Homo sapiens: one gene and its partners. The protein of the gene in region 1 purifies or fractionates together with the protein of each later gene. This does not show direct contact. Each region holds a gene or a part of one and is shown on either strand. Other genes may lie near its edges.

What was found.
Region 2: the proteins of WDFY2 (region 1) and MESD purify together in Homo sapiens (affinity purification with mass spectrometry; 3 studies listed by BioGRID and IntAct, with this or other methods). This does not show direct contact.
Region 3: the proteins of WDFY2 (region 1) and RBM17 purify together in Homo sapiens (affinity purification with mass spectrometry; 3 studies listed by BioGRID and IntAct, with this or other methods). This does not show direct contact.

Annotation. Positions count from the first base shown.
Region 1 is NC_000013.11:51,762,461-51,765,491, forward strand, and holds part of WDFY2 (WD repeat and FYVE domain-containing protein 2), read left to right. Parts: 3' UTR 1-3,031. UniProt on the Homo sapiens protein: Acts in an adapter protein-like fashion to mediate the interaction between the kinase PRKCZ and its substrate VAMP2 and increases the PRKCZ-dependent phosphorylation of VAMP2.
Region 2 is NC_000015.10:80,983,175-80,986,831, forward strand, and holds part of MESD (LRP chaperone MESD precursor), read right to left. Parts: intron 1-3,657. UniProt on the Homo sapiens protein: Chaperone specifically assisting the folding of beta-propeller/EGF modules within the family of low-density lipoprotein receptors (LDLRs).
Region 3 is NC_000010.11:6,091,940-6,095,596, reverse strand, and holds part of RBM17 (splicing factor 45), read right to left. Parts: intron 1-3,657. UniProt on the Homo sapiens protein: Splice factor that binds to the single-stranded 3'AG at the exon/intron border and promotes its utilization in the second catalytic step. Involved in the regulation of alternative splicing and the utilization of cryptic splice sites.

The DNA of each region.
Region 1 (3,031 bases):
TTCTCTCATCTGTGTGGGTGCTTGAATTTGGTGAAATGCGTTTAGCAAACCAACTGTGTGTTTGTAATACTGTGAATTCTTGCGTTTTGCATTAAGTGTCTCCCCCATTTTTGTAATTTGTAGAGAAATATGTGCTGGTGTTGGGTGTCTTCCAAGCATTTTATGGAAATGGAGGCTCCATTCCTTAGGAGTAAAAGCTGGCGCCAGCACTTGGCTCTTGTTCTGTCTAGGTGAACTCTCATAATTCTTGTTTTACCCTGTTGGATTTGCACTTTACATATATTTTTGCTCTATTACTTAAACATATAGCAGCTTTTACAAATAATGCCTAACATGCCTGCGCTGAGAAAGTGGCAGATCTACACATATCATACGCAGAGTTGTTCTCTACCTGATGGGGCAAAACCAACCACATGTTCTTGGTTCCTCCAAACGAATGACATTACTTGACATTACTGCCTGAGTGTATCTTCACAATAGCAAAATGGTTTGAGATTAAGCATTTGGAATCTTATGTCATTTTGTATGGGGTCAATCCACCATAACGTGTTTCTCATTTGGTTTTAATTATTTCCAGAAATCATAAAGTCACAAAACTGGAAGGGATCTTCAGAGATCTAGAGTGTTTCAAGCAGAAAACACATTAGTTATACAGGGCAGTTAGATATGGCTGAGATGTAAACAAGAGAATCTAAAAGAATGTTCAAGGAATAGCTGTTTTTGAACATTACTTAGTAATGGCATGAGTGGGAGGAGAGACTTTCAGCACCTTGAGACAGGGCGCTCTCTGGAACCAGCTTTGTTCCTCTTATCGAAAGCATATATGACAGTTTTTTTGGCTCCGGCCCTGTGGTGGGGGAGGTAATTATTGCCTTCATCCACATAAATTCCTTCCTATACATTCCCCTCAGACCACCCCAGAGGCAAAACTGAAATGGAAATCCAGTGGCACTTAAAATTCACCCTGCCCCGTTTGGCTGCGATTCCCAGGCTTACAGCACTGCCCTTATGGAATATCACATTTTCATTTTCTGAGATTCATTTTATAAAAGTAAAGGCCAGGTGCCATGGCTCACACCTATAATCTGAACACTTTGGGAGGACAAGGTGGGAGGATTGCTGAGCCCAGGAGTTCAAGACCAGCCTGGGCCACACAGCAAGATCCTGTCACTACCAAAAATTCAAAACTTAGTTGGGTGTGGTGGCACACACCTGTATTCCCAGCTACTCAGGAAGCTGAGGCGGGAGGATCACTCGAGCCCAGGAATTCAAGGATGCAGTGAGCTATGATTGCACTACTGCAGTCCAGCCTGGGCAGCAGAGCAAGGCCCTGAATAAATAAACAAAAGTATAATTTATTTTTGCCTGATATTAATCACTTCTTAAGGCCCAAATTTTTGTTTTTAAGCAAAAGGATAGCTCTAAGTGTGGGTTGCAGTTACTGGACATAAATATTCACTAAATGAGATTCCTTTGGTTATGGCTGTTCATAGAATTTTAATTCTATGTCAGTGTTCTTGTTCACTAAGATATTTCGAAGTGAGAGAAAGCATTTTACCAATACATTCTTATTTTTTCTCCTTTAAAATAATATTGAATTTTTCCTGGTACGAAGACAGATATTTATTAACTTGATTGGAAAACACAGAAATTAAGATCATGTTGAACACTGAGTTATCTAGATGATCCCTGAGATTTGAATGTTCATGTCAACCGTGTTGAGCGCTCACCAGCCACCAGGCTTTAGGCACTGGCAGTGCAAGGTGTCTGAGGCCCATTCTCAGGCTGGGCAGAGGTCACACAGTGAGTAAATGGGTCTTTTCAGTGCAATGTGGTTATGATAGAGGCATGCCAGGGTGCCACTAACCCAGCAGGTGTGGCAGGAGGGGCTTCACAGAGGAAAGGGACTTTGAGCTCAGTGTTAAAGGATGAGGAGTGAGTCATAAGGGGGAAAAATGGAAATGACTTTCCAGGCTTCAGAAACAGCATAAACAAACAAAGGCCTGAGAGCTGGAGTCAGTGTGGTGTGTCCAGGGATCACAAGTGGGCTGGAGCTGCCGGAGAACAGCCAAGTGGCTCAGCTGCCATCCCAGAATTGAGCTCGTCACTATCAGATGCTGCTGCTCCCTGGCCTCAGAGGAAAGCAGCACACAGCTCACCACGAGGGGTTTCCCCAGAGGCTCCTCCTGCAGCCAATGCTACTATTAGTTTATATTATAATAGTATCAGTTTCTTTTTCTTTGGAAATCCCTAGAACTGTTAACTGAAGGTGACTCAGGGTAACTAATTCTGGATCTTTGGGTGCACAGCCTCTCACTGGAGTCTGAGAGGAGGAGGTGGAGACTATCAGTGCACGGCCCGCAACCAGGAAGGACTCCCAGACTAACGCCAAAGGTGTGTTGGGCTCAGCTGCTCCACTGTGGAAAAGGAAAGCCCTGGCCCTGTGGCAGGAGAGGATTGTTCTAGTCAAGTGTGGCGTTGCACGGACAGGCGGTGCCGAGTGTTTGGGTGCAGACACAGGCAGCTGCTGCCCTCCACTTCCTGCTCTTGCAAGTCACAGATGATTCCAGTACAATGTGGGAGGTCCTCCTTACAGGGGCACTTGCAACAGGAAGGCAGAGAGTTTCGTCAATTCAGGTACAGGTCTGTCTGGGAGACCTGGCCCTGTGGAGGCAGGAACACCGTGCAGGGGCATGGCAGCGCCTGTCTTTGCTATCACATCATTTGCCTTTTCCTTGTAGGACCCAAAGATCTATGTCCAAAACTTAGTCCAGAAACATCTGCATTCCTGTTTAAACTTCAGCTCAGTTTCTTAACCAAGAACCACGTCAACCCTCCAGGGTTGTGGTTTGTATTTTTGCCTTTAAGCATTATCTCCTTTCCACCAAGAAGCCTACTTAGGTTTAACACATGAAAGCAGTGTCTAAAAATTAGATCGGTCCTAAATTGGAATGGGATGTCTTCCTTGCATGTCCCATACCAGGGAATTTTTTTAACACACAGTGTAGAGCCTTTGCCAGAGATGTTGAAA
Region 2 (3,657 bases), on another chromosome or scaffold:
CAGGGCTGCAGTAAGCTATAATTATGCCACTGCATTCCAGCCTGGGAGACAGAACGAGACCCTGTCTTAAAAGAAAAAAAAAAAAAGAAAAGAAATACTCCCTCTTTGCACTGTATACTTAAAATCTGCACTCCATGTATACCCATTTCACTTAATAGGCATTGTACAAAAATATTCAATTCCAGTTAGCAGGTTTGTTTTCTGTAGTGGTATGGGCTAGCAATTCTGAGACTATCTTATGTGACCTCTAGGATTGAGAAAAGGAGTAAACATATTGAGGGTAATGAGAGCCAGGTTCTTAACTTCTGGGAAGTAAGTTACAAACATGAAAGGGGGAAGAATGAGCCCTGTGGTATTAGGCTGGAATTGAAGGTATCAGGAGAAACTCATGGTTTTTCATAGATTAACAGATGAGTAAACAGATTAATGGATAAAAATATTTAAAAGAGCGTGGGTTCCTTGGAGAACAGGCTTATAGCAAGAGAGACAGAAGATGAGCCTAGAATAATCCCGCATCACAAAGTAGTAAAGTGCTCAAAGAATCGTGAACATGTCAAAATGCCATGGAAGCCAACTTGAAGCAGCTCTCATGGGCCAAAGTTGAAATAATCTCAACATCAAAATAAATAATAGTATGACTTACAACCCCTCAAACAAAATGAGATGTTGAACCCATAATGATCAAAACAAATGAATAAATTACTAATAGAAAACAGTAACTTTTTTTTTTTTTTTTTTTTTTTTTGAGATGGAGTCTCACTCTGTCACCAGGCTGGAGTGCAGTGGCACGATCTCGGCTCACTGCAACCTCTGCCTCCTGGGTTCAGGCGATTCTCCTGCCTCAGCCTCCCGAGTAGCTGGGATTATAGGCACGCACCACCACATCCAGCTAATTTTTGTATTTTTAGTAGAGACGGGGTTTTGCCATGTTGCCCAGGATGGTCTCGATCTCCTGACCTCGTGATCTGCCCACCTCGGCCTCCCAAAGTGCTGGGATTACAGGCATTAGCCACCATGCCTAATAAATAGCATATAGACTGACAAATAAAAAATCTTTAATAGAACCAGGTTCCTTGGAGAAAAGGCTAATGCCAGCAACCAAAAAAAATGAAGTACTGGCTGGGTATGGTGGCTCACAACTATAACCTCAGCACTTTAGGAGGTCGAAGCTGGAGATCACCTGAGCACAGGAGTTAAAGACCAGCCTGAGCAACATATCATGACCCTATCTCTACCAAAAAGAAAAAGAAAAAAGAAAAAAGAAATGAAGTACTGATTGATACATGAAAATATTATGCTAAGTGAAAGAAGCCAGATATGAAAGACTACACATTCTATGATTCCATTTATAGGAAATGTCCAGAATGGATAAATCTGTTGAGACAGAAGGTAGATAAGCGATTGCCCGGGGCTGGCTAGGGAGTTGGGAGAACACAGGGGAGGAGTGGTTGAAGGTTTCTTTTGGGGATGATAAAAATGTTCTAAAATTGAGTTTGGTGATGACTGTACAATTCTCTGAAGATACTAAAACTAAAATGTACACTTTACATGGGTAAATTGCCTATGGCATGTGAATTGAATCTCAATAAACCTGTTACCAAAACAAAAAACAAAAAAAAGCCCCTAAGTCACTCTTACTGAACAATATCTGAAGGGCCAAGGCTTAAGATACCATTAATAATGTACTATATTAAAAATAATTTTAGTAAAAAGTAAAAACGAAAGAATTCTACGCAGTGCTTGAAGGTGATCCATACCGACGTCAGACCTGGAATCTGGTTTCAGTTTTGCATAACTAGCTGTGTGACCCTGCCTAAGAATCCTTACGCCTCGAGGCCTGTTTCCTCATTTACAAAATGAAAAGCAGAACGAAGTGATCTCCAAGGCCCCAGTAACATGACCACACATAACACACTAACCTTCTTTTCCACTCTGCCACCCTCTCAACTGACATGTTTCTTCCTCACTTTGCTTTCAAAGAGCCACTGATGGTGACTTGCAGACAGGAGCATGGGCTGTGCTGTCAGACGGATGCGCTCCATCACTATGTGGCCTTGGGCAAGTTACTTAGCCCATCTGAAAATAACTTTCCTTACCTATAATGGAAAGCTGAGGGTAATAACAGCTTCTCCCTCCTAAGGTTTGTTTGGGGATGTAATGACTTAAAGGCAAGCAGAACTCAGTACTGTATCTGTTGGCTATGACACTGCTGACTCTTTAGGCCTCTGTGATCTGGCCTCCAACCACAATCACTGCATGGAAATTATACTCTCAAGTCACAAAGGACCTCCTAGTTGCCAAATTCACAAGTTGTTTCTGTCTTTATCTTAATTCTCCATAACATCGGTTATAGTCTCTTTAAAACACTTCAAGACTTCCAGTTGGTTCAATACCCTAGAATATTTGTATTTTTCAGATTGATTTCACTAATAATCATGAAATTAACTCAGTAGGTCCCAAGCAGCTTTTTTTTTTTTTTTTTTTTTTTTTAGATGGGGTCTTACTCTATTACCCAGTTTGGAATGCAATGGTGCTGGTGCAATCTTGGCTCATTGCAACTTCTGCCTGCCAGGCTCAAGTGATCTTCCTATCCCAGCCTCCAGAGTAGCTGGGACCACAAGTGCATGCCACCACACCTGGGTAATTTATTTTTGTATTTCTGGTAAAGACGGGTTTCACCATGTTGCCCAGGCTGGTCTCGAACTCCTGAGCTCGAAGGATTCACCCGCCTCAGTCTTCCAAAGTGCTGGGGTTACAGGCATGAGCCACTAAGCCCAGTCCAGCACTTCTTTGTTAATGCAAATATAATTAAATAGTCGTAAGTCTAGTGCATATAATACAGGTAAAAATTGTTTCAAGAGACTTAAAAAAAAAAGCAGCTTTAATTTCCATTGTATATGTGTGTGTGTGTTTCAGTTACAGAAAAGAAAATTGCAAAATAGTACCCTAATGAGCCTGGAGGACATTATGTTAAGTGCAATAAGCCAGACACAGAAAGACAAATACCGCGCATTCTCCTTCGTATGCGGACCTAAAATAGTTGTGTTCACATAAGTGGAGATTAGAATTGTGGTTACTAGAGGCTGGGAAGTGGAGGGGAGATAGGGAGAGAGGATGGTGAATGGATACAAAATTACATTAGATAGGAAGAATAAATTCTAGTGCTCTATAGCATTGTAGGATGACTATAGTTAACAATAATTTATTGCATATTTTCAAACAGCTAGGAGAGAATTTTAAATGTTCCCAACACAAAGAAATGATTAATGTTTAGGAGACAGATATGCTAATTACCCTGAATTGACCATTACATTTTATACATGTGTAGAAATACAACTCTGTACCCCATAAATATGTATAATTATTATATGTTAAAATTGAAGTGTAAAAATAGTACCCTAGATGTACATAATTATCCAGTTCTACCCTTAGTCTGGGTAACCTAACCTGTTATGATCAGTGTGTTTATGCTGAAAACAATCCAGTCTTTACCCTGAGGCAGAGCGGGGGGCCAGGGACAAGTCAGGCAGTCCCCTGACTCCAGTCCTAGCCCTGCCTCCAGGCCAGTCTTGCATTTTCAACTGGCTTTAGAGCTCCTTCATTACTGTTTGTCTAAGTCAGTAGCTACAAAGCTGAGCTCCCCTTTCTGCAAATCCT
Region 3 (3,657 bases), on another chromosome or scaffold:
GGCCGTAGAGAAGCAGGGAAAGCAGACTGTCCAGGGGTATTGATGGCCGACTGCTCAAATGAATCACATAAGAATGAAGGGATGGTCAGGCACGGTGGCTCACGCCTGTAATCCCAGCACTTTGGGAGGCATAGGTGGGCGGATCACTTGAGGTCAGGAGTTAAGAGATCAGCCTGGCCAACACGGTGAAAACCTGTCTCTATTAAAAATACAAAAATTAGCTGGGCGTGGTGGTGGGTGCCTGTAATCCCAGCTACTCCGGAGGGTGAGGCATGATAATCGCCTGAACCCGGGAGATGGATGTTGCAGTGAGCCAAGATCACACCACTGCACTCCAGCCTGGGTGACAGATAAAGACTCCGCCAAAAAAAAAAGAAAAGAAAAGAATGAAGGGATGCCGGGATGCAGACAGACTCTCCTCCTGATAGATGTCTTCAGTGCAAAACTGACCTTTTTCAGGAACTTGGGGATGTCTCGTGACAGGCCTGAAGCACTGAGGCCAAATCAAGAAAAAATAATGAACTCCATTCCTTAAGAAATATGGATGAAATATAACCATGTCCTCAAAGTCTTGGAGGGAATCCCCTGATGTCCACTTCAGAGCCTAGTTTAATAACTCTGAACTCCAAGAAAACCTAGATCCAGGTTGTTCTGTTCACTGCTCTATCCCCAGACTAAGATCAATATCCAACCCACAGCTAAATAGGAAATGAGGCCAAACTGCAGTTTATACTCCATTTGCGAAGCCCTCTCAATTAGAAATTTCTGGCCAATAATCACTGGCCAGAAGGAACAACACTGCACCAAACAGCTTTTGAGGCTTTTGTACACTTTTCTTCCAGCTTACCCAGAACTCAAAACTCATTGTTCACATCTAGATACATACCCTTAAATTTTAATCTAAGAAAACTCAAACAGAGCAACAGCACAGAAAAACCATGCTGAGTGTCCAGCTTAGCACTGTGGCTCCCAAACACATTTCTTCAGAAATGACCATGCACCTTTCATCTAACTTAGTTTAATCTTTTGAGCCCTCTTCATCCAACTGGTCAGCAAACCAAAGCCTACTGAACTACAGGTTCTTCTGTTCTTTCTTTATTCTTAAAATGGAAAGGGAATACTAACAGATTCTGAGAAATAAACAATGCGACTTTCTGGGAAATCACAAAGATAAATCAAAATTTGTTTGCAACTCAAACTAAACTCTAGATATTTGCTTTTCTCAATACAGACTATCTCCAGTATGAAAATCTGAAATCCTTCAAAACCTAAAACGTTCCGAGCAACAACATGACCCCAAAGTAGAACATTCCACACCAGGCCGGGTGCGGTGTCTCGCACCTCTAATACCAGCACTTTGGGAGGCTGAGGCGGGTGGATCACGAGGTCAGGAGATCGAGACCATCCTGGCTAACACGGTGAAACCCCGTCTCTACTAAAAATACAGAAACAAAATTAGCCAGGCATGGTGGCGGGCACCTGTAGTCCCAGCTACTCAGGAGGCTGAGGCGGGAGAATGGCGTGAACCCAGAAGGCAGAGCTTGCGGTGAGCCAAGATTGCACCACTGCATTCCAGCCTGTGTGACAGAGTGAGACTCTGTCTCAAAAAAAAAAAAAAAAAAAAAAAATTCCACACTTGACTTCATGTGATGGGTCACAGTCAAAAACAGAGTGAAATCTTTTTGCATGCATAAAATTATTAAAAGTATGACATATATTGCATATTCAGGCTATGTGTAGAAAGTATATATGAAGCATAAATGAATTTTGTGTTTAGACATGGGTCGCATCCTCAAGGTATCTCATTATGTATATGCAGGCATTCTAAAAATCTAAAAATATCCGAAATCTGAAACACTTCTGGTCCCAAGCATTTTGGGTAAGGGATACTCAACCCATTTCTCTTTATAACTTGAGAACTTTACCGAAAGTGTTTATGAATACGTTAGTGCCACCAGAAATGGGTTAACCAAATGCCCATTAAACTTCGAGGGGAAAGATTCACTTATTTATTTTTGCATCTACAATTTCTGTCATATAGCAAGCATTTAATAAGCTTTATTAAAATACTAATAATGGGCCGGCTGCGGTGGCTCATGCCTGTAATCCCAGCACTTTGGGAGACCGAGGCGGGCGGATCACTTGAGGTCAGGAGTTTGAGACCAGCCTGGCCTACGTGGTGAAAACCCATCTCTATTAAAAATATAAAACTAGCCAGGTGTGGTGCTGCACGCCTGTAGTCCTGTCCCAGCTGAGACAAGAGGGTGAGATAGGAGAATTGCTTGAACCCGGGAGGCGGAGGTCGCAGTGAGCCAAGATTGCACCACTGCACTCCAGCCTGGATGATAGAGCGAGACTGTCTCAAAAAAATAAAATAAAAAATAAATAGGCAAAGAGGCAGCACTGGGGAATAAGGGAAGGAAGTAACCCCCAGAGAGGGAGGCAACACTCCTCACCCTCCCCAGAAGAGTCAACTCTGATGAAAAGAGTTCTCTAAACTTTGAGGCTAAAAATCTAGCAGTGTACTAGATCTCAGCTGCCAACAGTTCTTCCATCAATAGATTCAATATTTAGCAAAAATTAAATAGTGAATTAATGAGATTTTATGAGACCACACATCTCCTCTGATTCCATGTCATTTAAGATGGCTGACTGACAATTCCAGTTGATTTGCTGCATTGCGCAAAAGTTTCAGAAATCATCAGGCAGCAAATCTCATGCTCATTTAAAGGTCCTCATTTCTCTTCTCAAACCTGCAAAACGCTTTAAATATTAGAAACTGATGTCATCTTACCAGCACCTGCTAGTTTTCTGTAACATTGAGCTTATAAAATCAAATCTCTGCATCACAGCAAATGCAAAAGTGCTTTCTTCGTTTTTCTCATTTTCACTGAATTTTAAGTTCACAGAATGGGATTAATCATAGTAACATCACACTCTCATCCATTCACACACTTATTACCTGCTTTTGTTTAATTATTATAATGCTGCAAGCACCTGTGAATTCACCACCCAAAACAAGACAGGATCTAGACTAAGAAACCACACTCAACCATACTACTCCCCCAACCCATTCATGTAATTTCCCCGGAATCCTCTTCTCATTATTTCCTTGCTTTCCTCCTTTTATGTTAATTTTATTTACAGTTTTAGTTAATCTATTCCTTAAAAAGTGTGTATTCTTTATTTTCGCTATATTAAGCATTTAATATACAATAGTTTGTTCATTAATTCTCCCCACCGCAACTACTGAAATGTAATAAGTACATTAATAAGACTGCCAAGACCCAAACTTACCCTAATTAACGTTGACATTATTACTTAGACAACATAACACATTTATTTCATTAGGTCTGCTGCCAGGTAACAAAAAGCTGTACTTTGTAACAACTGGATATACCATAAGAAGCCAGGATCAAAAGTAAATACAAATTGCTGGTTTTTATAACTTTAAAATATTTGCTATTTCCTTCCTTTTTGTGGCAACACTTCCCTTTGAGCAACCCACGTTTCATATATGCTACATTTTTTCTTAGGAAACATAACAAACATGGTTCTGCCAGAAGGAAGAATGGTGAGTTTTCAAGATTCCACCCAAGCTGGAAAGTATTTTTTTAAAACATGTGCAACTGGCAGGAAAAAGAACATGGAAGAGTC